Linked DNA regions of Homo sapiens: regions 2, 3, 4 and 5 are each linked to region 1. The links come from fine-mapping of genetic effects on gene expression. A gene starts in region 1. Each other region holds a variant in brackets. All regions are shown on one strand. Distances are between the middles of the regions.

The links. PIP is the estimated chance that this variant, and not a neighbour inherited with it, causes the effect.
Region 2: its variant is fine-mapped to the expression of DNHD1 in whole blood (TOPMed, PIP 0.98).
Region 3: its variant is fine-mapped to the expression of DNHD1 in whole blood (INTERVAL, PIP above 0.99).
Region 4: its variant is fine-mapped to the expression of DNHD1 in whole blood (TOPMed, PIP 0.95).
Region 5: its variant is fine-mapped to the expression of DNHD1 in whole blood (TOPMed, PIP 0.96).

What each region holds. Positions count from the first base shown.
Region 1 is chr11:6,495,223-6,500,222 of GRCh38, reverse strand. DNHD1 (dynein heavy chain domain 1) reads right to left here and starts at 2,943. Exons shown (of 43, transcript NM_144666.3): 1 at 2,892-2,943; 2 at 2,556-2,638; 3 at 1,262-2,452. The coding sequence starts at 2,007.
Region 2 is chr11:6,533,452-6,538,579 of GRCh38, reverse strand. DNHD1 (dynein heavy chain domain 1) reads right to left here. Exons shown (of 43, transcript NM_144666.3): 14 at 4,407-4,899; 15 at 70-197. Among named protein-coding and RNA genes, the nearest start is that of DNHD1, 39 kb to the right of the region's middle. The variant T/C (reference allele first, on the strand shown) is at 3,080.
Region 3 is chr11:6,526,339-6,531,466 of GRCh38, reverse strand. DNHD1 (dynein heavy chain domain 1) reads right to left here. Exons shown (of 43, transcript NM_144666.3): 11 at 2,680-2,945; 12 at 2,346-2,589. Among named protein-coding and RNA genes, the nearest start is that of DNHD1, 32 kb to the right of the region's middle. The variant C/ACACACC (reference allele first, on the strand shown) is at 3,063.
Region 4 is chr11:6,402,061-6,407,188 of GRCh38, reverse strand. It overlaps APBB1 (amyloid beta precursor protein binding family B member 1), which reads left to right. Exons shown (of 15, transcript NM_001164.5): 3 at 3,367-3,542; 4 at 3,645-3,701; 5 at 3,785-3,870; 6 at 3,981-4,044; 7 at 4,464-4,613; 8 at 4,980-5,107. Among named protein-coding and RNA genes, the nearest start is that of SMPD1, 14 kb to the right of the region's middle. RefSeq lists a silencer at 1,576-1,870. The variant T/C (reference allele first, on the strand shown) is at 3,049.
Region 5 is chr11:6,473,833-6,478,960 of GRCh38, reverse strand. It overlaps TRIM3 (tripartite motif containing 3), which reads left to right and starts at 5,020. Exons shown (of 12, transcript NM_033278.4): 1 at 5,020-5,128. It overlaps ARFIP2 (ARF interacting protein 2), which reads left to right. Exons shown (of 8, transcript NM_001376558.2): 5 at 2-223; 6 at 763-920; 7 at 1,069-1,243; 8 at 1,693-2,442. The coding sequence ends at 1,848. RefSeq lists a silencer at 4,894-5,123 and an enhancer at 4,481-5,128. The variant G/A (reference allele first, on the strand shown) is at 2,017.

The DNA of each region.
Region 1 (5,000 bases):
AGGCCGAGGTGAGCAGATCACTTGAGACCAGGAGTTGGAAACCTAGCCTGGTCAACATGGCGAAACACTGTCTCTACTGAAAATACAAAAATCAGCTGAGCGTGGTGGCATGAGCCTGTAATCCCAGCTACTCGGGAGGCTGAGGCAAAAGAATCGCTTGAACCTGTGAGGCAGAGGTTGCAGTGAGCCAAGGTCAGGCCACTGCACTCTAGCCTGGGCGACAGAGTGAGACTCTGTTTCAGAAAAAAAAAAAAAAATCGAAAGTTAGAGAACGCTGAGAAGAGAAGGTCTCTGTAAGCATTCTGAAATCCTGTAGAGAGCTCTGATAGCCAGATATTTTAAAAAAGAAAACAATAGGGCCGGGCGCAGTGACTCACGCCTGTAATCCCAGCACTTTGGGAGGCAGAGGTGGGCGGATCATGAGGTCAGGAATTCGAGACCAGCCTGGCCAACATAGTGAAACTCCGTCTCTACTAAAAATATAAAAATTAGCTGAGTATGGTGGCACGTGCCTGTAGTCCCAGCTACTCAGGAGGCTGAGGCAGGAGAATCACTTGAACCCGGGAGGCGGAGGTTGCGGTGAACCGAGACCATGCCGTTGCACTCCAGCCTGGGCGACAGAGTGAGACTCTATCTCAAAAAAGGAAAGAAAGAAAGAAAGAAACAAAAGAAAAATATATCACTCAAGGGGCCAGAGTGCCCACACTGGCAGGGCAAGAAGAAGACTCTGGAAGGGTCAAAATGAAATTCTATCCAGTAGTGCTGCCAACTCCACTCTGCCTTGGAGCCGGTTTAAGTCACATAGACATGTGGGAAGGACACTCGGACACACATTCCCCAGGGGTACCTTGAGGGAAAGACCCAACATCCAGGAATCAACTCACAGTAGGCCCAGGCAATGTTCAGTGATTATGAATGAATTATAGAAAAATAATTAAGGAGACTTCTGACATCATCTAAGAAAAAAACCTGGAAACTGAAAAGTCAAGCTGTTATTCTAAAGCTTTGGCTGCCTCATAGCTGACTTCTGATTTTCATTAATTTCTGTATTTCTCTATGGGGATTAAGACTAACACCACTGGGTTTATTTTGCAGAGAAAAAGGAAGAGGAAAGTAGCCTCACACTAGCTTTGTGTGGAGTTGGGCTAATCCCTGTGATAAACAGAGAGCTGGATCTAAACTTCCAAGTGACCCCAGAGGCACCCATAAAACAGCAACTTTTTCTCCTCTGCTCAAGCCCTAGACTGAGTCCCTCACTTACCTGGTCTCTTTTCTTCCAACAGGCTCCACCTCTGCATTGTCAGTGTCACTGCTTTCATACCGTACAGGGATGTCCGCTGCCAGTGCCAAGGGAAGGAGACTAAGTCCATCCAGCCACACAGCCTCTTCTAGGGCCACCTGAGCACCAACAATGCCCAGGCAGCGCTGTAGCTCAGGCAGTGTCAATGGTCGCAGCCAGGTGGCCAGCTCCTCCTTTACTTGCTGCCTGCTCCACTGGGCCTGCACAAAAGGGCAAGCTGGGCATGGGGGCCTGTGATGGAGCCTCCGCTTCTGGGGACAGCAGTCAGCATGGGAAGCACTGTCTAACAAAGAGCTGTCTGGAGGAAAGGCCTGGACAATGGCACCTAGCAGGTCCAGATGGAGGTGGGTTTGGACCCAGGGTGCCCAGCAGTACAGCTGCTCCAGGAAGGGCAGCAAATCAAGGTGGCCAACTAGCAACTCACGATATGGAGGCAGTAGACCCAGTACTGCATGAAGATAGCGCCAAGCTGCAGGGCTACTGTCCTGCAACACAGCTGAGAACAGAGTTCGGAGCTCAGCTAGCAGGAGTTCCAGCACTGTGGGCTGCTCTGACTCAGTCACTGGCTTCACGAACTGCCTCTGTTTCTGCTGGCAGGCCAAGGGCTGTTCTTTGCTGTCCAAGACACATATGGAGTGCCAAGACTTAAGGGAATCAGATGATGTCTCATCAGAAGACAAACCTACCCTCCTCTCCTCCGGGACCATGAGGAGCTGGGCATTCAACTGCTGTCGAAGTGACCTTGCCCATAGCTCAGGCTCCAACTGCCAGTTCCAGGATGCCAGATGCGGGGCCTCACCTGCATGGGCCAGCCCAGCAGAGGGGCCAGAGAAGGGACCTCAGGCTCTGGGCAGGGGATGGTCAGAGTCAATGGGGTTAGGAGGAAGAAAGGACCTGGGACAGGGAAATAGATGGAGCTACAGAGCAGAGCCAGACCAGCAGAGAGCCTTTCCTGAGACCCTCAGGCCCTCCCTACTGCTTCCCCAAAGACTCTGGTAAGGAGCAGGCCTAAGACAGACGTGAGAGCCCTCCTTGCAGAAGAGTTCCTTCTTACCTCCCAGTACCCTGTCCCCCTCACCTGGCCTAGGGGGGTTAGGAGGCAAGGCAAGGGAAGAGAGCCCGATCTGCTGATGAGGTTTCATTGAAGAGTGCCTGCTGGAGCAGTGAATGAACTTAGACTTGAGTTCCAGTCTGAGGCTCACCCTAATCATAGCCACCCATACACGGAGAGACTCGCACACAGACGTGCAATCACCTGAAGAGGCAAACTGACACACCGACAGAGCTCACTCTGAACCTCGGTCACAGCAAGGAATCTGCACTCGAGCTGGCGATCGCCTGAAAAACGGGTTAACAGGTCGTCACTCGAAGGCAGCAGAGCCCCAGTCCCATGACGTCTTCGCCCACAGCCTAAGGAGGTCGTGAAGACAGAAAGCCGAGGAGCAGGCACAGCAAATGATGGTCAGGATGCAGGTAGGGGAAGACGTTAACAGGCAAAGGAGGGGGCTGGGAGAGCGGGGAAGAGGAGGCGGACTCTGTGGGAGGGGGTCCTAGGGAACAAAGAGAAATGGATCCGGAGCCGAGGACTCACCCGCAGCTCCACCCGCACCCAGCTGTTAGAACCGTTACAAGATTCCAGAAGGACCGAGTCTTTGCCAGGAGCATCCGGGGGAGCCAGAAAGAGGAGGGGCCAGGGTCCGATATGGGCGGGGCCGAGAGGGCAGAGCCCAAGCCTGGAGGGGCAGAACTAGGTTCAACCTGTGGGCTAAGGCTTGCCTGGGACAGGGACCTGTAGAGGACCAGGCGGGGTCTGAACTGCACGTGCAGTACGGTTGACTCGGGAGACTAGCAATCCAGAGGGTGTCGTAAGCAGGTGTTTATATCCATTCGCTGAGTATCTAAACTAGTGCCAGGTCTTTGGTATGTCTTTGGTACTCCCCCATCCCCACCCCCAACGTATCCATCTACCCTATCCCACCTCCCCAAAAGAAGCCCGAATAAAACAAAATCCTTGATCTCAAGGAGCTCAACATCTATTTGGCACGGGGGGAGGGGGATTTTTTGGGGAAGGGCTTATGGAGGGGCTAATTTTTAAAAATTAAGTTGAATGAGGCCGGGCGCGGTGGCTCATGCCTGTAATCCCAGCATTTTGAGAGGCCGAGGCGGGTGGATCACGAGGTCAGGAGATCGAGACCATCCTGGCTAACACGGTGAAACCCTGTCTCTACTAAAAATACAAAAAAATTAGCCGAGCGTGGCGGTGGGCGCCTGTAGTCCCAGCTACTGGGGAGGCTGAGGCAGGAGAATGGCGTGAACCCAGGAGGCGGAGCTTGCAGTGAGCAGAGATCGCGCCACTGCACTCCAGCCTGGGCGACAGAGGGAGACTCTATCTCAAAAAAAAAAAAAAAAAAAAAAAAGTTGATGATTAAAATAAAAAAAGAAATTCAGCCCACCTCTCCTCTGAAATCAGATTAGTATATCCAACTGCCTACTTAATGTCTCCACCTGGAGAGCTTATAGGTATCTCAAACTTAAAATGTCCAAAAGCAGGCTCCTAACCACCCTTTCCCCACCAAAGAAATGCTGCTCCTTTCACTGTCTTTCCCACCTCAGTCAATGGCAAATCCATTCTTTCTGGTTTCTCACACCAAAACCTTGGAGTCAGCTTTGAGACCTCTTCCAAACCCCTTCTTTCTCTTTCCCTCTTCTTTTTCCCTTTCTCTTTCTCTCTCTCCCCCTCCCTCCATAAGTAATCCTTCAGGAAATTCTGCTGGTTGTGCCTTCAGAATATATCCAGAATCCAACTATTTCCCACCATCTTAAGTACTACAACCTTGGTCTAAGCTGCTATCATTTCTCACCTGGGTTTTTCCACAGCCTTTGAACTGTTCTCCTTGCCTCAGATCCTTCTCATGCTTCTCACCATTGCCCCTACAATCCATTCTTTTTAGAGCAGCCAGTGATCCTTTTCAAATATAGGCAGATCCTATAACTCCTCTGCTCATAGCTCACTAATGCCCCCTCATCTAATTCCTTCAGCTGAAGGCCAAAGTCCTATCATGGCCTACAAATTGCTGATAACTGCCTGCTACCTCTGTAGGCTTCTCTCTTCACATTCACACTCTACTACTGCTGTGCCTGAATCACACCAGCCATACCCCCACCTCACAGACTACATACAAGCTGTGCTGTCTGCTTGTGTATCAGTTAGGAGATACACAAGTTATGACTGTTATTTATTTATTTTTTTGTAGAGACAGGGTCTCACTATGTTGCCCAGGCTGGTCTCGAGCCTCTGGCCTCTAGCAATCCTCCCACCTCACCCCTAAAGTGCTGGGATTACAGGCGCGAGCTATTATGCCCGGCTGTGATGGTTAATTTTATTTGTCAATTTGACGGAGCTAAGGGATGCTCAGATAGCTGGTAAAGCATTATTTCTGGGTGTGTCTTTGAGGGTATTCCTGGAAGAGATTAGTATTTGAATAGGTAGACTAAGTAAAGATCATCCTCACCAATGTGGATGGGCATTGTACAATCTGTTGCCTAAACAGAATTTAAACAGGCAGCTGGTGGACTTGCTGTTTTAGCTGAGACATTCATCTTCTGTCCATGGACATCAGTGCTCCTGGTTCTCAGGCCTTCAAACTTGGATTGAATTCCACCACCAGATTTCCTGGTTCTCTAGTTTGTAGACAGCAGA
Region 2 (5,128 bases), 38 kb before region 1:
ACTCTTCCCCTCCCCCACCACTGTAGTCCTCCACTCCCAGTCAAGAGCTCCAAGGAAGGGTGTCAGCACCTTGGCAAAAGCCATGCACTTCCACTCGCTGATGTTTTCGGAGATGACTCGGTACAGGTGCCATATGCGCTGCTGCTGCACAATAGGACGTGTCCCACAGATTGGCAAGGGCACAGGAGTCTCATCCTCTGTGGGGGAGGGCTGACTTGAGACCTGGGCTACTTGCAGTGTTGGGAGGGGGGTGGTGGAATGATCAGTCAAGAGCCCATAATGACAGAAGGTAGGGTCCAGAAAGTGATGGTTGGGGGTGGGGGAGGTGGAGTTCCAAATTGTTTGGCTCAACAATGGAGGTGGGGTTAATCCAAGGAACAGTTACTCCAGGGAAAGACCATCTGGGAAAATGTGATGGCAGTGAAAGGGAAGAGTTCCTCTTTAATTAGTCTCCATCTCATTCACTCCATTCTAGTGACACTGGACGCTTTACTATGGCTGAGATGCACCAGATATGCACCCTCCTGCTAAGGGCCTTTGACTAGCAGTCTATTCTTTCTGGAACACTCTTCCTTCAGAGAATCACATGGCTCATGCCCTCACCAGCTTCAAGTCCTTGTTCAAACAAACAGCATCTTCTTTTTTTTTTGAGACAGAGTCTTGCACTGTTACCTGGGCTGGTGTGCAGTGGCGTGATCTCGGCTCACTGCAACCTCTGCCTCCCGGGTTCAAGTGATTCTCCTGCCTCAGCCTCCCAAGTAGCTGGGAATACAGGCGCACACCACCATGTCAGGCTAATTTTTGTATTTTTAGTAGAGACAGGGTTTCACTATGTTGGCCAGGCTTGTCTCGAACTCCTGACCTCGTGATCCGCCCGCCTCGGCCTCCCAAAGTGCTGGGATTATAGGCATGAGCCATTGCGCCTAGCCAGACAGCACCTTCTTAATGAGGCCTATGCAGGCTATCTGGTTAAAAATTCCTAGCTACCCTTCCCGGCATTTTCAACCCCTCTTACTCTGTTCTATTTTTTTTTTTTCTCTATCACTTATCACTTTCTTATATACTACAGAATTTGGTTATCATCATTGTTTATTGTCTTTCTCTCCCAACTAGAAGTTTGGGTCCATTAAGAAAAGCATTTTATCATTTGTTCACTGATGTACCTCAAGCCTAGTGTACACAGCAGTCTCTCAACAAATATGTGTTGAATGAATGAATGAATGAATGAGCGAATGAACTGTCAGCCCAAAAGAAAGTTCAGCAAGATGAATATAAAAAAGATCTGGCCCACATAGAGGACCTGTCATGTTTACCTCCGGCCATTATCCTCCACCCCTTCATCTCACAGGGTACTACATTAGTTCTTAATCAGTTACTTATAGTCAGTTGTGAGATAAGTGTCAATAGGAATTTATAATTAACAATAATTATAATATCGAGGTTTGCAATTTACTTAAAAGACAACAGATATCTCATTAACTTGAACTCCAGTTTACTTTCTTGAGTGGGACAAAAAGTGATAGAGTCACACCCAAATGCTGGGCCTCATGCATCTTACACATGTGCACATCATCCATTTTGGAGATCTCAGAGTATTAAAAAGCTGGAATCACTAGGCTATCAAAGCTCTGATCTGACAAAAAGTAAAATGACAGTAAATCTAAACTCTTCCAGTCTTTGTCTAAACTCAAAGATATGGCTAGAGTCCCATACAATCTTTGACAGCAGTTGTTTCAACATCAAATATTAGACAAATAAACAACTTCATCTGTAAGAAAGAGCAGAGATATCATCTCCAAACACATGAAAAGATAAAGACAAACTGGGGATTAAGAGCAAATGTCCTTTGACAGACATTTTGTGATATCTACTTGATAATTTCCATGCATTTTAAAACTTTTTATCTGAAAATGAGTTCCAATCTTCAAAGTTGTAGGAAAAAGTAGTAAAAAAAAATTGTGTACCTTCTATCTTCCATAGGTATAGATATATATCTATACTGTTTATCTTTGCCTTTTGTTGACATTTTACCCATTTGCTTTATCATTTGCATTCACATGCTCTGTGCATGGGCATGTGTATGCACATATACACACACACAATTTTTTTTTCTGAACTATTTAAGGGCAAGTTACATAAATACTCAAGTATGCATTTCCTAAGAGTAGGGATATTCTTTTATATAACCACAGTGCAATTCCAAATTTCATATATTATATTGATACAATATTTTAATCTACTGTCCATATTTCAGTTTTGTCAGTTGACCTAATAATGTCCTAGATTGCATTTTTTGCCTCAATTATAGCATCTGGTCCAGGGTCAAGCACTGCATTTGTCATGTCTCTTAGTTTCTTTTAATCTGGAACATTTCCATAGCCTTTCTTTCTTTTGTAACAGACATCTTTGAAGTATACAGTCCCCTTTTGCCATTTTTTTTGTTCATAGAAAGTTCCTCATGTTGTGTTTTTATGGTTTTTAAAAATGATACTCATTCTCAGCTGGACTACTACATAAGTGATATTGTATCCTTCCTTCTCCAGTATCACATCTGAAGGCAGATCATGTCCCTATGTCCTTCATTGGTGATGTTAATTTTTAATCACCTGGTCAAATTATTGTCTGATTTCTCCACTAATTGTTGTTTCTTTTTCTTTCTTTCTTTTTTTTTACAACAAATAAGTGATCTCTGGGAGAAACTCTCAAAGACAGTGCAAATATTCTGCTCCTCATCAAATTTGCCCTAGATTTGGCATCTGTTGATCCTTATCTGATCTGGTAATTACCATGATGGTTGCAAAATAATAATTTTCCCACTCCAGCCTTCCTTCCACATTTATGCCAGTCAGCTCCTGGCATTTTACTGTAAGCATGAGTCCTCATTTCTCTCTCATTATCTATTTATTATTACTACGCATAATAAATGCCTTTACTTCAATAGCTTAGAATTTATTATTGTACTTACTTTGGTGATCAAATTGTTCCAGATTTAGCCAGTTGGTATCCCTTCTGAATCCTTGTGATATGCTCCCATCACTTTTTTAAACACTTTAATACTTTCTTACTTTCTGGTATAAAA[T/C]GACACTTTAGGTTCATCTTGTACCTACCCTGCCACAGCCCTGGAATCATCCATTTCTCTAAGGAGCTCTGGTTCCTTTTAATGGGGAATGGTGTTTGTTAGAAACTAAGACCTGAGCACAATGTGGCTTCTTGCTACTGGGGTTTCTTTGCTTCATGTCCTCTTCAGCAGATAGAGATAGCAAATGTGTGCACATGTATATACACATAAACACACAGTTACATGCGTATACATGTGTACATAAGCATGCATACACATGCAAAATGTGTGTTTTAAAATGCAATAGAAATACAAAGTGATACCATAGGAAATGGAAGCTTATAAAACAAGCTCACAACATTTTTCCAGAACTCAGAGAAAAAGAATAAAGGAATGACTGATGATAAAGAAGATAAAAGCAATGAGTGAGAGAGATTCAGTAAATCCAACATACATATAAGAATTCTGGAAGGAAGGCCAGGCGCAGTGGCTTACACCTGTAATCCCAGTGCTTTGGGAGGCTGTGGCAGAAGGACTGCCTGAGTCCAGGAGTTCAAGACCAGCCTGAGCAACAAAGTGAGTCCTCATCTCTACAAAAAATACAAAAATTAGCCAGGCATGGTGGCACACACCTGTAGTCCCAGCTACTCAGGAGGCTGAGATGGGAGGATTGCTTGAGCCTGGGAGGCTGAGGCTGCAGTGAGCTGTGATCATGACACTGCACTCTAGCCTGAGATCCTGTCTCCATTGTTTGGTAATGGCTCTTATATTTGCTCTGGTCTCCTTCCAGAGCCCACAGAGTTCTTTAAGAACAGAAGGGAACCAGCTTACCTGCACCACTGTATGAAAGAATTGAGACCAATAGTTCTGTCCTGGCCTCCTCCTGTGTATTAGTGAGGCCCTCAGTAGCCTCCTCTCTATACCACACTGGCTGGAGGAAGTGATCTGCTAGAGCATCAAGACCTACTCTTGTTCGGGGCCTGCTGCCTGGTGTAGGACTGTGTTGAACAGGGCTACAAAAAGGCTACGTTCTATAAGGAGAACTTACATTTCTCCCACACATGCTTTTAGCCCCTGACCCCATCACATTCTGATGGAACATTCACTTGTTTGCCTTCCTTACCAGACTGTGAGCCCCCATACCCCCACCCTAAGCACAACACCTGCCATGGTCAATATATGATGTTTTTGTCCTGAAATTTTCATTTATAAAAGACACCAGTGAAGGTGTGTGATTCCCAAGGCTTGCTTGGGGTCATACAGGACACAGAACCCTGAGTTCCAACTCTTACTTCAGTTGAAGGGTCTATCACAGAGTGATAATGGAGGGTGCAGGGATCCTCAGTACCAGTGAAGATGGCATAGGCGTGGTGCAGTTCACTGAGGTCGCTGACTGTGTTCTGGAACTGACGCTCTAGGGAGACGAGCTGGTGCTCAGTACTCCTCTGATCTTGTGTGGGGTCCATAAAGGGACCGGAGAGGGCCTTCGCAAGCAGGCCTTCCAGCTCTGCCAATGCTGCTGCCATCAGCTGCTGCAGCTTGGGCATAATGGCATGTCGCTTGCTGAGCAGGAACTCTGAAGCCTGGCTTTTCTCAAACTGAAATGCCTCCCACATATCCAGAAGCTGTGGGGCAAGCAGAGGGCAGTGGAGTAGATGTGGTTGTGGGGGAGGAGGGCAGGGAGGGATGGGTGACTCCCCGAATTGCCTTCTCACCGAGATGTCCAGTGCTTCATTCTCAGCACTAAAGAGGCTAAAGTGGTTGCGGATGAGTTCGTGGAGTGCCCGTACGTATTCCATTCGCTCCTCCAGCTCGACGTACTGTTCATTGGCTTCATTCAACTGCAGGAATTACAGCATGAGACCGGCAGCCCCACAACCCCATGTACCTCTTTGGTCCCATCCCCAAGGGGAACTCCCACCTTTTGGAGTGAAGTCTCCAGACCCAGTTGCAGCCTTGTAATCAACTGGAATCAGGGGCAATCTCTCCTGAGGGATCTCTCCAGAGGGATCAAATCTCTCTCTGACCCAGATCTCTCTGGTGAAGGGTCCACTTCTCACCCACCACCCC
Region 3 (5,128 bases), 31 kb before region 1:
AGTGACACCGTATGGTATAAAGGAGCAATGCATTGATAAAATACCAGGACTCCTTGGGATTAGAAGCTGGAGATGGATAAAAACAGATTTAAGAGATACTTAGGGGGCAGAAGAATGACAAGGATTTGGAGACAGGTTGGATGTAGTAAGGTCAAGGAGAGGGAGGAGTAAAGGGTGACCCCAAGTTTCTGGTGAAGCTAATTCGTCAGAGTGTATAATTACGCCATTTGTTGTTCAAGGGAGTTCAGGAAGAAGAGAAACGACAGAGTTAAGTCAGAGGGTTAGATAAAATTAGATCAGCAAGAAGGATGAGAGTAGATACAAGGGGATAAGGTGAAATGAAAAAAATATTAAGCACCTACTGCATGCCACACTCAATGCTAAGAGTATTGCAAATAATATCTTAGTCATCCTTACTATAACCCTGTGAGTGACTGTGTTATCATGCCCAGCTTACAAATAAAGAAACTAAAACACAGTAATCTGAAGTTACAAAGCAAGTGAAAAACAGACAGGGTTCTAAATCCAGTGCTCATTTCTCTCCACCTGCTCCTCTTAAAGAGACTAGTTGGTCCTGGATTGAGGATCAGGAAGCTAACAAACTAGAACAACAATAAGCTTTCTCAGCAGCAGTGAAGTAAAGCCTGACCAAAACACGGCCAGAGAGAAGACAAAACAATCAAACGTCCTCCCGGTTCCTGCCTTGCCCGCCTGAACCCCCTGTACAAGAGGAGGGAGTTTTAGTGGCCCACTGGATACCTAATGATACATGTGCTTTCATCTGTTGAGAGCCAAGACAGGGAAGGCGAAGCAAGCAGGGCATACAAGCAAACTCTTTCCAGGCCCCAGTGGCTTCTAACCTTCATAAAGAAAGCAGGCCTGGGAAGCCACGGGTCCAACAGGATCTAGTCTTCACAGGAAGTAGATACTATTGGCTATTGCCATCCTTGAGGCTAGGTGAGGAAAGAGAACAACCTCCATATTTCCTAAAAGAACAAATCACTGGCTTCCAAATCTACCCCGCTGTGAGCCTCTCTGTGGCGAACTCCTAGGCTGAGGCACTAGCTAGTACACAATAGCATGAGATATCCTTCCCATGGGAAGGAAGAAAGAAAAGAGGGTAAAAGACTAGGTCATAAGCCAGATTTCTCAGAGACCCAGGGATAGCAACAATTGGGCGTTCAATTAGCAGGGGTAGAAGTGGCAAGAGGAGGGAACCTGAGATGGGTTGAGGAGAAAATAGGTAGTAGAATGGTCTTGAGCCCCACTTTCCACATAGAACTTTGGGAAAGACCACCTTTTAGGGTGTCCCTTGCTAACATGAAACAGTCACAGCAGAGTAGAAATCATACTGTTATGTGTTGTAGTAAAAAGAGGGGCGGATATAATGCTTACCAGTTTCCCACAACTCCCAAATGGCAGGGGATATAGATGATAGCAGAGAATTGATAGCCAGTGGCCTAGATGAAGTTCCTGTGTTGAGGGGCTAGGGACCCTGAAGCAAAAGCCATGGGGGTAGCCAGCCTAAGACAGAGACTGGATGAAGGATTCACTAAAACCCCAAGGATCAGCTATGCCAGCAAATGTTAAGACAAGGACAGGTCAGCAAAGACAGACACTCCAGGTCCCTATTAGTCCAAGAAAACACATCGCAGCTCTACCAGCCCAGGACACAGCAGCACCAGAAGCAGCAATGTCAGGAGGGCAGAGACCAGGCAAGGATGTATCACACCTCAGAAGCCAGCCCACCGGCCTTCCCCAGTACAGGTGGCACCTTGGGAAGGAAAAGGGAGGAAAAGACATTTGAAAGTAAAAACAACCCAGAACTACAGTATAAATTTTCAATTGCCCAGATATCCCAAATAGACTGAATCAGACCAAAAGTGACTGCTTTAAATGAAAGGAGCTTTCTTTAATTGGAAAGGTTACATTCTTTCACTACCAGTAGAAGTTAGGACTACAGAGTAAGACAAGCTCAGTTAGAGAGTAGCTTTTTACATATGCAAATCGTAGTATAAATTTCACTCAGCTACATGCAGAGAGAAAGCACCCTAGATTCCCAAGAATCTCTGTAAAGACACTGAGCTTAGTAGCCCAAGCACAGGAACATGATTCCTAAGGAATACAGGGTATGAGCAGAGCCAAAACAGAGAGGCCGGCCTTTGCAGTGAGCATAGCTTTGATGGCAAAGGAAAGGGCCTGGGACCTCGGGCTTTGGAAGGCTTCATAGGTCCAATAAGAGGCCTGCACCGAAGGTCTCCGGAGGACATTCCAGGACCAAGGCAGGCCATGTGAATAGACATACAGAAAAGGGAAGGAGGAGAGGGAAGAGAAGCAGTACTCACCCATCTCTGCCTGTACATCATGGCAGCTAAGTAGCAGCAACCCGCCTTTTGTGAGCAACTCGATAGGCATACTGGAGACACGGGCCTGCCAAACATTCAGGCGGCTCACCAGCGTCACGTAGTTCTTGATGGGACCACCTCTCATGTCTTCCAGCTTCTGAGGCCCCCAGGATTGCAGGAATTCATAAATGCCTGTTATCCAATGATGTTCCCTGCAGAATTCCTGCACCTTGCACAGCACGCCCTAAGGGCAGACAAGGTGTTTAGGGCAGAGGCATGCGGCTATAATGGGAATTGGTGGGCAGCGCCCTATCCCTTAAACCACTGTTCTCACCTCCAGCAGCACCTGTTGTATATTCAGTGCCTGCTGGATCTTAGGGTTGTTGTCCAGGTCTTCCTCCAGCTGCTTATAATTGTGGGGGAAGTATTGGCCCCGCAGCCGACATCCACGGACCTCCAAGATACCAGCAATTGGGTGAGACTTCCAGGGCCACACCAATCCCACATTCGGGCCACAGAAGATGCTCACAGCATCGCTGGGCTGGCCCTGGAACTTGGGCATCAGAAATTCGTCTTTTGAGTCCTCCTCTTCATCTTCTTCTAGTGGAGCACAGGCCATAATTGTCCGTGAGTACCCTCCAGAGCCCACAAACAATCTTCCTTTCTCCTTGCCCTCAGTGTGTGTACACACACACACACACACACACACACACACAC[C/ACACACC]CATTCGCTGCTCATGAGTGAGTTAACACATACATCTATATCACAAACGTAAAATACTAGACCCATGGAGGGGATTTATTAGTTAGGGTTCATGTGCAAATAACATAATTTACTCTAGCTAGTCTAAGCAGGGAGGGACTTATTACAGAATATTAAATGGGTTGCAGAATAATAGGAGAGCTAAAATACAAAACCACTCAAGGTTGAGCATCTAGGGCTGTGTTCTGCCTGGCAAAATGGGATATCACTGTCACACCATCAACTACAGAACACACTGCCTCTGCTATGATCCACAGAACGGATGGCATACGCCCTGACTCTTTCCCCCTCTTAATTCAATTCTGAATCAAAGTCTTTTGTAGATCTAACTGGTGGATCCTAAATTGTATATGACACCTAGCTGCAGGCGAGTCTGGGAAGTGTAGTTTGTAGTCTCTGGCATCTGCAGAACAGAGGAGTTGCTGGGAATGAATATTGAACATGCCAGTCCTCAGTTATCTGTCTTAGAGAATATTCTTGAACCTAGCCACTCATTAACTCTTTAGGAACTGGTTAATTGACAAGTTTAGTATTTGTGTTAAAACTTCGCACAAAATAAAGGAAAGAATTAAAATGTTCAGAATAAGAGCCATACTATCCACACCCAAACCCTGTAGTACTCCTAGCTGATCTCTTCTCTTCTCCAACTGTACTCACTCTCTAGGAAATCTCATCCAGCTTTATGGCTGTAAGTACCATATATTTGCTCCCAGATTTATCTGTAGCCCAGATCTCTCACTTAACTCCAATCCCATTTAAAGAACTGCCTAATTCACTTCTCTATCTGGATGTCTAACATGCACCTCAAATTTAACAGAGCCAAAATGAACTCTAATTCCTCCCCGCCAAAACTGCAGTCTTCCAACTTCAGTAAATGGAAACTCTGTTCTTCCAGTTTCTCCAGTCAAAATCTTTATAGTCACCTTTGACTCTTTTTCACATACAACACATCCCATTTAAAAATCCTGTTGTCGTTACTTTAAAAATATATCCAGAATCCACCAATTCTCACCACATTGACCACCACCTGCCCTCCTCCCCCAGCCCAAGTCACCATCATCTCTTACTGCATTATTGCAAAAGCCTTCTAACTTTTCTACCTGCATTGGCCCTTGCCTCCTATACTTTACAGTCTCTGCTCCATATAAGAAAAAGAATCATCCTTTAAAAAAAATGCCAGAAGGGATTCTGAGAAGATGATGGCAATGGCAGCATCATTTTGAAATCTCCCCCAAATGCCCACGTAAAAATGACAGAACAATTAGATAATAAAACCAAAAACACAAGGATAGCATTTTTTAACAAATGAGGGCAAGGGATCCTCACAGATCCTAAAATACAAGTAGGTGGGGTCAAACCATCTGCAACCTCAAAACACACATGGCATCACCATTTGTGATGAATGATGCAGAGGGAAACAATGAAGCAACAGATGGACCTAAGAATAAGAAAACCCCCAAACAGTCATCAAGCATTTACTGGGAGGCAGAGGGCCCATTTCAGAACAGCAGGTAAAACTGGAAGGGGGTCTTACCCCCTCCAAGAACAGGTGAGGTAAGGTCTATAGAAGCTTAAGTAATCTATGCCCTGTGTACTCTTGAAACCAAACAGTCAGGGCTCCCTTTTGGGACAGAGCTCGTCATGGAGAAAATGCTGGGAGTAGAATAAGGATTGAGCAGCAATAGAGAAAAAGGAAAAGTCTAGATGAAGGTAGGGGAGGGAAACCAGAAAACCTCAGAAAGTAAGCCATCTTTTTTTAATACAGAAAAACAATAGAAAGTGAAACTTAGAGGTTAGAGAACTATTTTGAACCAAGTCTTCTTTTGAAAGTTAAGAAAAGCTAAAATTTCCAGTTTTCTATGAGCAGTAGAAAAGTATCAGCATCAAACCCCATACCAAGCTTTTATAAGAAAAAAACAAAGCGAGGCATAGAATAAATCCCCAGAGACAATGAAAGCATGTCAAAAACCAGAGCAAAACTATAGCCTATTTCAAAACAAGCTAAAAGACAATAGAAAAATGATAGA
Region 4 (5,128 bases), 93 kb after region 1:
CTCTTTTACAACTGTGTTGCTATGACCATGAGGGCTGCAGAGAAGGTTTGTGCTCCTGCAGAAATGAGGCTAGAATTGAGCAAAAATTATATTCTCCTTCCTATTGTAGGATATTCATAGAGCTATGGATTGAATGCATAAATGCATGAATTCATGAATTAAATGAATGATGAATGAATAAACTTTACTACCTGTATTGAATTCATACTCTGCTCCAGGCCTTATCGTAAATGCTGGAAATGTATACTATGGGGCAAAGATGTTCTTACCTCCTGGCCTTCACAGCCTGGTGAGGAGACAAAGAAAGAAACAAGTGGTTATGATCAGTGCGATGAGCTCTCTGGGGCTGGGGAAGTACAGGAGGGGCCCCTGACCCTGCCTGTGAGAGTGGTGGGGGAGAGGGCAATGGGTCAGTTTTAAGAAGGGACCTGTATACTGATGTCTGAAGGAGAGGTAGGTGATAGCCAGGTGAAAATCGAGAGTAAGGGAGGTGGGCTGGGAGAGGACAAGGGGGCATGTCCCAAGCAAAGAGAGAGAAGGGGAGTGGCTGGAGGTAAGGCTGAGAGGCAGACAGGGGTTCATGACAGCACATAAAACCTGGGGAGGAATTTGGACTTTATCCTGAGGGCAGTGACAAAACAATTAAGAGGATTCCGTTGGAAAATTACTTGATTAGTTTAGCATCTCAGAAGAATCATTTGGGCTGTACTGTGCAGCTGAGATTGGAGGAGACCAGATAGGAAGAGAAAGACCAGTTATGATGTTTTTGCAATGATGCAGGTTAAAAAAAAAAAAGCTAGTAGCCTGGGCTATGTTAGTTATGTGGGGTGGAGAGAAGGGGAAAGCTTTAAGTCAATCACTGATTCCTGAGCAAGTGAGTACACCTGGCTTCACCACTAAGGCATTTGTGGATGAACGAATGAAGGAAGGAAGGAATGATACGTGAACATTTAATGTATTTTATATGTAAGTGTCGCATGAATCGATGCAGGAGTGAAGGTGTGCGTTCTGGAATAAATGCATGTGTGTGAAAGCAAAGGCCGGGGTGGGCTGCGCTTGGAGGGAGATGTGCCAAGCTCCAGAAGGGCCTCCCAGATGGCCAAGGGGGGAGAAACTGCCCTTCCAGGACAGATCGGAAGGATGAAGCTCTTTGAAGCAGGAAGGTACAGGCTGACAGGGATGGCAGATGGATTGGTGTGTGTGACTCAGTCAGGAGATGGTGAACTGGTCCCCAGATTCCAGAAGTGTCCAGCCAGCCCTCATGAAGCAGGCTGTGGCTGTGGAGGGCATGGAGGCCCTAGGGTGCTGTTCCTGGAAGGTTTTAGCAGGAGAGTCCTGAGGCAATGGAGGGTCTCTAGGGAACAGCAGGTATTCCCTGAGCCTCAGCTAAGTTTCAGGTGCCTATTGAAAACCTTATTCCATAGAGTGTGAGTTAGGGGGAAGTGGGGGTGAGGAGAGGCGGTGATGGCTGCCTAGAAGGTGGATGGGCAAGAGCCCCTCCTCTTTGGGTGTCTGTGGGCCCACGTCATTTGGAAGCTGAGGATGGTGAAGCACCCTGCCTGAATAACTCTCGTCAGGTGTGCAGCCACCTTGGCGTAACCACGCCCACTCCCAGCCCTGCTGTGTCTGGTTGCCCAGCAGCAGGGTCTTGGGACTGCCTGTCCCTTAGTACTGCCTCTTGGACCAGTCAGGATTCCTGGTTTCCCTGGTAACGGGAAGCACGTCAGCAGTCTGGGCGCTCCCAGCCGGTCCTGGTGCTGCGGTTGCCGAGGAGACGCTGCAGCCTAGCTGGGCCCTGGCAGGTGAGGGGTGGGGGGTGGTGCTGGGAAGCCCCAAGCCCAGCCTCAAGCTTGCTGGGGCTCAGGACCTCAAAGCCCACCCTTGGGTTCAAACTGCTGTGCAGGTCCTGGACAGGGGCGGGATCCCTGAAGGCCTTGAAACCACACCCTATTTATGCTGACAGCTATAGGCTCTGCAGGGCCCCAGGCAGCTGGGGTATTCCTTAGGGGCTGAGTCTCCTGGTATCCCTAAGACTGGGCTTGGCTTAGGCACTGAGGTAACCACTGGAGGGTGGGATGGAGATTCAGGATTGGGGGAGGGGAGCCAGGGCGAGGAAGAAGAGGTGTGAGCAGAAGGGGCTGGGGTCTCATGAACCTCCCTTTCTCCTCCCTTCCCCACCCCCCAAGGAGATTCCCTAGCATGGTGGTCCTGGCCCCTCCCTAGCAAGCTCCAAGCGGGGGAGGATCTTGCCTGGCAGACGCTCTGCCCTGGTGAGAAGGGGGCGGGATGAGCTTTTCTCTGCAGCCCAGCACCAGGCTGTGAGCCCAGCTGGCTGGGCTGGAGGGGCTGTGAGGAGGGAGGGTGGAGGCAGGAGGGGCCGGGAATGAGCGCCATGTTCTCCCAGGACTTTTTCCTGGCCATTATCCTGCAGGACAGCAGCGCAGGTGAGGGGCAGCATGAGGTTGGGCCTCATGTGGGGTGGGGCTGACAGGGAGAGAAGAGTTAGAGGACGCATGAGCGGGTTACAGGGTTGGAGTGGTGTGGCTCTGCCGGCAGACAAGGGTGTATGACACAGATGCGAGGTATGTGTGTATGTGCATGACATGTTTGCTTGCATCTGTGTGCAGCAAGGGTCAGGAAGTGAGCGTCTGTGGTGTCTGCACACATTTGGCAGGGTTTGACGTGTGCCGTGTGTCTGAGTGTGGGTCCGCCTGTGTGTGTGGTACCCACACGTGTGTTGGGGCCATTGTGGTGTGGTATCTGCACACCTGTGTGGCAGGGGCTCGTATGTTTAGCTGCATGCACACACACCTCTGTGGTGTCTGCATAAGTGTATGGCTAAAGTTTGTGTGTGTGTGCCCCTGCACATACATGTGCACCTGTGTGTGATACCTGCCATCTGTGCTGGCATTTTCTGTGTTGCATACCCTGGTGTTTGTGGCTGCACAGGTGTGTGGTAGGGCTTGTATGTGTTGTGTGTCTGTGTATACATGTACGTGTGCAGGAGCTAGAAAGTGTTCACCTTCGTGTTAACTGAGATAATAGATA[T/C]GTATGAAAGGAGGTTAATTGGGGTCACCCAACATTCATTGCTCCCTTCCTTCTTCCCTCCCTGCCTTCCTCCTTTCCACAGTGTGGCCACATTAGCCACCAACAGGGCCCAGGAGGAGACCTGAGCCATGTCCCCTACTGGTGGCCCCACATGTGGTGACTCCAGACTATAGGCTCTAGGCAGAAGCAGGAACTGTGTTGTGGTATAGCTCTTCCACCACCCCTTCTCAACCATGGGGTCTCAGAGGGGACCGGGCATAGGCACCAGCTGTCTGCTCTTTGGGTAGGCTGACCCTCACCAAGCCTCCCACCTGGCAGATTCCTTCTGGAACCCCAACGCCTTCGAGACGGATTCCGACCTGCCGGCTGGATGGATGAGGGTCCAGGACACCTCAGGGACCTATTACTGGCACATCCCAACAGGGACCACCCAGTGGGAACCCCCCGGCCGGGCCTCCCCCTCACAGGGGAGCAGCCCCCAAGAGGAGTCCCAGGTGAGGCTCACAGGCCTGTTGATTTTGGGCCAGGGGTGGAGGGAGTGTGTGCTGCTGGAGTAGGATAGGACACTCACTCACTACTCCCATCCCTCCTCCTAGCTCACCTGGACAGGTTTTGCTCATGGAGAAGGCTTTGAGGATGGAGAATTTTGGAAGGTGGGTAAGGGGACCTGCTTTACCACGGGATAGCTGGAGGAGGGGCATCATTTTGATACTGATTCCTCAATCCCCTTCCCAAGGATGAACCCAGTGATGAGGCCCCAATGGAGCTGGGACTGAAGGAACCTGAGGAGGGGACGTTGACCTTCCCAGCTCAGAGCCTCAGGTGAGCTGCCAGATGCAGTGAGCTGGCAGTGGGATGGATCTGTCTGGAAGGGGCCTTGGGACAGCTCCATTTATGGGAGCCCTGTGCCAAGTATTACCATCTGCCTTCAGCCCAGAGCCGTTGCCCCAAGAGGAGGAGAAGCTTCCCCCACGGAATACCAACCCAGGGATCAAGGTTTGTTCAAGACTGACACCCATTCTGAGTCTGGGGCCCTCTTATTTGTCAGACAGCCCCTAATGTTGTGCTCTGAGGGGTCTCAGCGCAGTTCCCCAGGTCCTGAGTTAGGAGTTCTTCCAGTCTCAGCACAGAGCCCTGTGTCTGAGCTGGAGGCACTTCAGTTTTTAAATCAACCAGCCCAACAGCCAGGTTGGGGGCCCTTGTAGTCTTAGTTCAGGTGCTTTTTTGTACTAGCTGGGGTCTCATCTGACATCTCCCTCACCCTAACCACATCCCCCTCTCCCTAACCACATCCTGTTTGGGGAGCTTCTCCGTCTTAGTTCAGAACACCCTGCCTCCTGCCACACTCTGTAGTCAGGAACTCTCCAGTTTTGACTCAGATCCTCTACCTCCTGCCCCTCTTCTGTGTCTGGCAGTGTTTCGCCGTGCGCTCCCTAGGCTGGGTAGAGATGACCGAGGAGGAGCTGGCCCCTGGACGCAGCAGTGTGGCAGTCAACAATTGCATCCGTCAGCTCTCTTACCACAAAAACAACCTGCATGACCCCATGTCTGGGGGCTGGGGGGAAGTAAGGACCTGAGCCGGGGGTAGGGGGTGGTACTGTGAGAGTGTGAAGGGAATTATGAGAGATGGGAGGTCTGACCTGCCCACAAGCAGGCTGGGGAAGGGGGATATTGGCCCATCCTAAGTGGCAGCCCTGTGGGATGGATGAGCGACCCCAGGCCAGGACCTTGGGAGATAGTCGCCTAACAACGGTGGAGTCAATGTGAGAGATGACACGTGACCTCCACTAGAGTGAGGCCTGCAGGGCGGGCGGTCTGACACCAAAGCAGGGGCCCCAGAGCTGTGGCTAACATCCCCTGAGCTGCAGGGGTCAGAGATCAGCCACCATCCTGGCTGGAGTCCCACTGAGTGCCTGCTTCTGGTCCTGCAGGGAAAGGATCTGCTACTGCAGCTGGAGGATGAGACACTAAAGCTAGTGGAGCCACAGAGCCAGGCACTGCTGCACGCCCAACCCATCATCAGCATCCGCGTGTGGGGCGTCGGGCGGGACAGTGGAAGGTGGGAATAGGGCTTGGGATT
Region 5 (5,128 bases), 21 kb after region 1:
GTGCACAAAGCAACTGTTATCAGAACGATTTGGTCGAGGCTCACGGACTGTGGACCTGGAGCTAGAGCTGCAGATTGAGTTGCTGCGTGAGACGAAGCGCAAGTATGAGAGTGTCCTGCAGCTGGGCCGGGCACTGACAGCCCACCTCTACAGCCTGCTGCAGACCCAGCATGCACTGGGTGATGCCTTTGCTGACCTCAGCCAGAAGTCCCCAGAGCTTCAGGTGCCTCACCCAGACCAAAGAGGGTGGGGGAACTGGGCATGGGCCCTCCCAGGCAGTCATTCCTCATCCTCCCTCCCTCCTGCAGCCCACAGGGAGAACCCCTTCAGGGTGGGCCCAGCCCTACCCCCAGCAGCACTCACCTGTGGAGGCAGCCTAAGGGTTTGTACAGAGGTCCAGAAGTTGGAGGGGGTGGGGGAGGGGGCACACTAGGTGCCTCACAAATAACCCCTCTCTGCACTGGGGAGAATGCCTTCGTGCTCAGCCTAATCAGAGCCCCTCCCCTGCTTGCCACACTAGCTCTCAGACTGTTCCAGTCTTGTGAACTTACCCAAGAATGCCCACCACCCACATTCCTACCCCAGGTATCCCCAGGGTGATCCCACTAACTTTCCGGCTAAGAGAGCCTTGCTGGAGGCAGTCCTTGGTTGTTCCAGTTTTGCTGGCTGTGTCCTCCCCGGGGAGGAGGGGAATGAAGGGCTCTACAGCTTCAGTCAGGTAGGGAGTGTTATTCAAGGTCTGTTCCTCCCTTCTGCCCTCAGGAGGAATTTGGCTACAATGCAGAGACACAGAAACTACTATGCAAGAATGGGGAAACGCTGCTAGGAGCCGTGAACTTCTTTGTCTCTAGCATCAACACATTGGTCACCAAGACCATGGAAGACACGCTCATGACTGTGAAACAGTATGAGGCTGCCAGGTGTGGGCACTGGCAGGGCTTAGGGTTTGGGGAGTTGGCTGGTATGGGTGGAAATTTGGGCATTAGGGGCATAAGAATTCAGGAAGGAAAGGAGAGTATGTGTTGAGGATAAAGGAGTGGAGACCAGCCTTTATCACCCCCTCCCCAGGCTGGAATATGATGCCTACCGAACAGACTTAGAGGAGCTGAGTCTAGGCCCCCGGGATGCAGGGACACGTGGTCGACTTGAGAGTGCCCAGGCCACTTTCCAGGCCCATCGGGACAAGTATGAGAAGCTGCGGGGAGATGTGGCCATCAAGCTCAAGTTCCTGGAAGAAAACAAGGTGCCAACCCCACCCCCTTGACCCTAGCCCACCTTTCCATCTGTAACACTAACCTTCCCCTCAGACCCTCCCCATTATTGAATGAGGAAATGCAGCCTAGCTGGGGAGTAGAGTGTTCACCCCCTCAACCCCTGGGCCTTTCCAGATCACCCTCCCTCCAATTCCTGGCCCTTTCCTGTTGGAGGATTTGGCTGCTGGTCCCAGGAACATAACTGGGAAAAATCACCCCCTGAGCTGGGGTACAAAAACCCTAGGCCCACAAATCCAGTGAGGTTTCTTCCATCATACTGACCCTTCTCCTTTGACTCCCTGGGTAGAGTTCAGCCCCTACCCCAAAAGCACCATCAGAGCAGAGTCCTTGTGCCCCTGGTCTGTGCCTGGGCTCAGGCTCATAGACCCTCAAGAAGGGCGCCTGAGTCCAGCCTTAGCTGACCCTGCTGGACCCCCAGATCAAGGTGATGCACAAGCAGCTGCTGCTCTTCCACAATGCTGTGTCCGCCTACTTTGCTGGGAACCAGAAACAGCTGGAGCAGACCCTGCAGCAGTTCAACATCAAGCTGCGGCCTCCAGGAGCTGAGAAACCCTCCTGGCTAGAGGAGCAGTGAGCTGCTCCCAGCCCAACTTGGCTATCAAGAAAGACATTGGGAAGGGCAGCCCCAGGGTGTGGGAGATTGGACATGGTACATCCTTTGTCACTTGCCCTCTGGCTTGGGCTCCTTTTTCTGGCTGGGGCCTGACACCAGTTTTGCCCACATTGCTATGGTGGGAAGAGG[G/A]CCTGGAGGCCCAGAAGTTGCTGCCCTGTCTATCTTCCTGGCCACAGGGCTTCATTCCCAGATCTTTTCCTTCCACTTCACAGCCAACGGCTATGACAAAACCACTCCCTGGCCAATGGCATCACTCTTCAGGCTGGGGTGTGCTCCCTGACCAATGACAGAGCCTGAAAATGCCCTGTCAGCCAATGGCAGCTCTTCTCGGACTCCCCTGGGCCAATGATGTTGCGTCTAATACCCTTTGTCTCTCCTCTATGCGTGCCCATTGCAGAGAAGGGGACTGGGACCAAAGGGGTGGGGATAATGGGGAGCCCCATTGCTGGCCTTGCATCTGAATAGGCCTACCCTCACCCACCCACCCAGTTTAATTGTGCTTAGAGCCCAAGAAGATTGGGATCTAGCACTAGGAATAAACCTTTCATAAAAGCAGGCCCAGCGAGGTCAATTTGTCGGGGACTCTAGGAGGGTGGCCTGGGTGGAGACAAGCTCAGTCTAATCAAACACCAGAACCCTATCAAGTCAAAAGAGCTGGGGCCAGGCAGCTGAAGTCACAGGTTTCAGAGATGGTTTGAAGGCCCAGTCTTCTCTCCCAGCCTCAGTTGGAGCCAAAGCTTTGTCCTTTAGCCAGCACCAAGATAGCTATGGATCTTAAGAGCACCAGATCCAGAGGGGGTTGGGTTTGCTGACCTTCATCATGCATTCATTCATACAGCAAATATTTACTGAGTGCTTTCATTTGCCAGGGACTGCGTTAGGCCCTGGGGAAACATCAGTGAATAAAACACGGTCCCTGCCCACAGTGCTTAGGGCCTACTGAGGGAAAGAAGTAACCAGGCAACTACAAAACAGTGATAAGTATTAGGATACAGAAGTACAGAGGGCGCTGTGGGAGCACAAAGGAGGGGCATCTGGCATGGACTGGGGTGGAAATGGGGATGTCAGTTTGAAAGCTGAGACCTGGCCAGGTGCGGTGGCTCACTCCTGTAATCCCAGCACTTTGGGAGGCCGAGGCGGGCGGATCACCAGGTCAGGAGATCAAGACCATCCTGGCTAACACGGTGAAAACCCATCTCTACTAAAAATGCAAGAAAATTAGCCCGGCACGGTGGCTGGCGCCTGTAGTCCTGTAGTCCCAGCTACTCGGGAGGCTGAGGCAGGAGAATGGTGTGAACCCGGGAGGCGGAGCTTGCAGTGGAGCCAAGATTGCGCCACTGCACTCCAGCCTGGGCAACAGAGCGGGACTCCATCTCAAAAAAAAAAAAAAAAAAGCTGAGACCTGAAGGGTGAGTAGATGACAAACAGGCAGGGTAAAGGGAAGAGCATCCCAGGCAGAGAGGCTAGCATATAATGAAGGCTCTGAGTAGGAACTGGGAGGAATTGCTTGGAATGAAAAATGAAGAGGGAGTGGCTAGATGAAGACTGCAGGCTGGTTAAGGACTTTTGCCCTCTGGAGAAGGAGCTGAGAAGTGTTTTAAGCAGAAATTTGACTGCATGGGAGAAGTATAGAGTTGAGAAAAGTAGTCCTCTGAGGCTTAAGATAGTGTCATCTAGACTCCAGTTCCCTCATCTTGGGTAGCATAGTAGCCCCAGCCCAAAACTGCAAGCATGATCCCCGTCTGGGTTTCCTTCACAAGCACTGGAGCATCTTGTGCTATGTGCTGAACTCAGGTGGATAAGAGGTTGAGGCGGTTCCCAAAGCTCCTGCTGCACCCAGGTGTTGAGCCTAAATCTGAACCTTGTGGAGAGGTCACAAGAAAGATCCCTAACAGCACTTTGGTTTAGTCAGGGCTAGGTGTCATCACCTGTATGCCCTTTGGCCAAGGAAACCAGAATTTTTCAGGATTTTCCCCACCTCTGGAAGGCTGGAGGAAGGGGAAGACCCACTCAGCAGATTCCCATAGTGCAGGGATCCTCACAGGCATGACTTTGCCCTTTGTCATGGATACTGCAGCTCCCAGACAGTCTTCTGGGCTTTGATCAGCCTGCAATCATCTGACTAGAGCTTGATTTTTGGGGCAGGGAAGGTGGTCCTTATATGAGCTGCCACTTAATGGGCCACTGGGGATTTTTCAACATGAAAGGTACCGAGTCTCCAAATGCTGGTTGTAGGGCCTAAAAACAGGGCTCAACTCCAGGTTCTGCCACTTTCTAGCTGAGTGATGAGGGCTAACGTCTGGGGAGCAAGATCCCTATTTTTTCCCATTGTAAAATTGGGCTAATAAAAGATGCTACCTACTGACTATTAAATAATATATGTAAAGTGGCTAGTTCTGTGTCGGCACATAATAACCACTCAGTCCCTGTAAACTGTTACAATTATTTTCCACTTGGGGCTGCTTTTTGCACAAGGCGATGATTCTGAGAATTGTCCAGTGTCTTTGGTGTGAGGAAGGGAGTCGCTGGATGGTCTGAACCAGAATTTCCTCAGGAGGGGGCTCCTGAAGCGCCCAAAGCCTAATCAAATCCCCCACCTTTCTACCCCTTAACTCCTTCTCCCAGAGTTCTGGGTACTGCCCTTCTGCCGCCCAGAGATCGTGCTGAGGTACAGACGGTTTCTACGTCTTCCTGGTCAGCCGATAGACTAGCATATTCCATAGGAGCACTCCAAGGAAGCCGGAAAGGGCGCCTCCAGGAGGCAGGCGGCCCAGACAGGCTCCCAGAGTCCGAAATCCCTGCTGCCCCAGCTGCCTTTTCTTGACGGAGTCTCATCTCAATCCCTGAGACCGACTACACCGCCCTTCCCGGAGCCGGAGGCAGCTGGCGGAGATCCGGGATCCGAGATCCGGGATCCGGCTCGCCGGCCCGCCGGCTCCCTAGCAGCACCAAGGAGGCAGCGTCCGCAGGAGGTGGAGGCGTTGGCGGGGGGGCGTGCGGGTGCGGTAGGGGTGGGCAGGCGGGGTGGGCGGGGCCTCCGCGGCGGCGGGCGGGGCGTGGGTGGGTCTTCCCTACTGGAGTCACCCCCTCCCCCGGCCGGTCCGCAGCCCCGCCCCGGCCCCTCCCTCCGGCCTGTGCGGCTAGTCCGGCGGCGGCGCCGGCGCGGGGACAGGCGGAGGCGCGGGCAGGGCCGGGCGGACGGGCGCTGGCAGCAGTAGCAGCGCCGCGGGCCCTTCAGAGT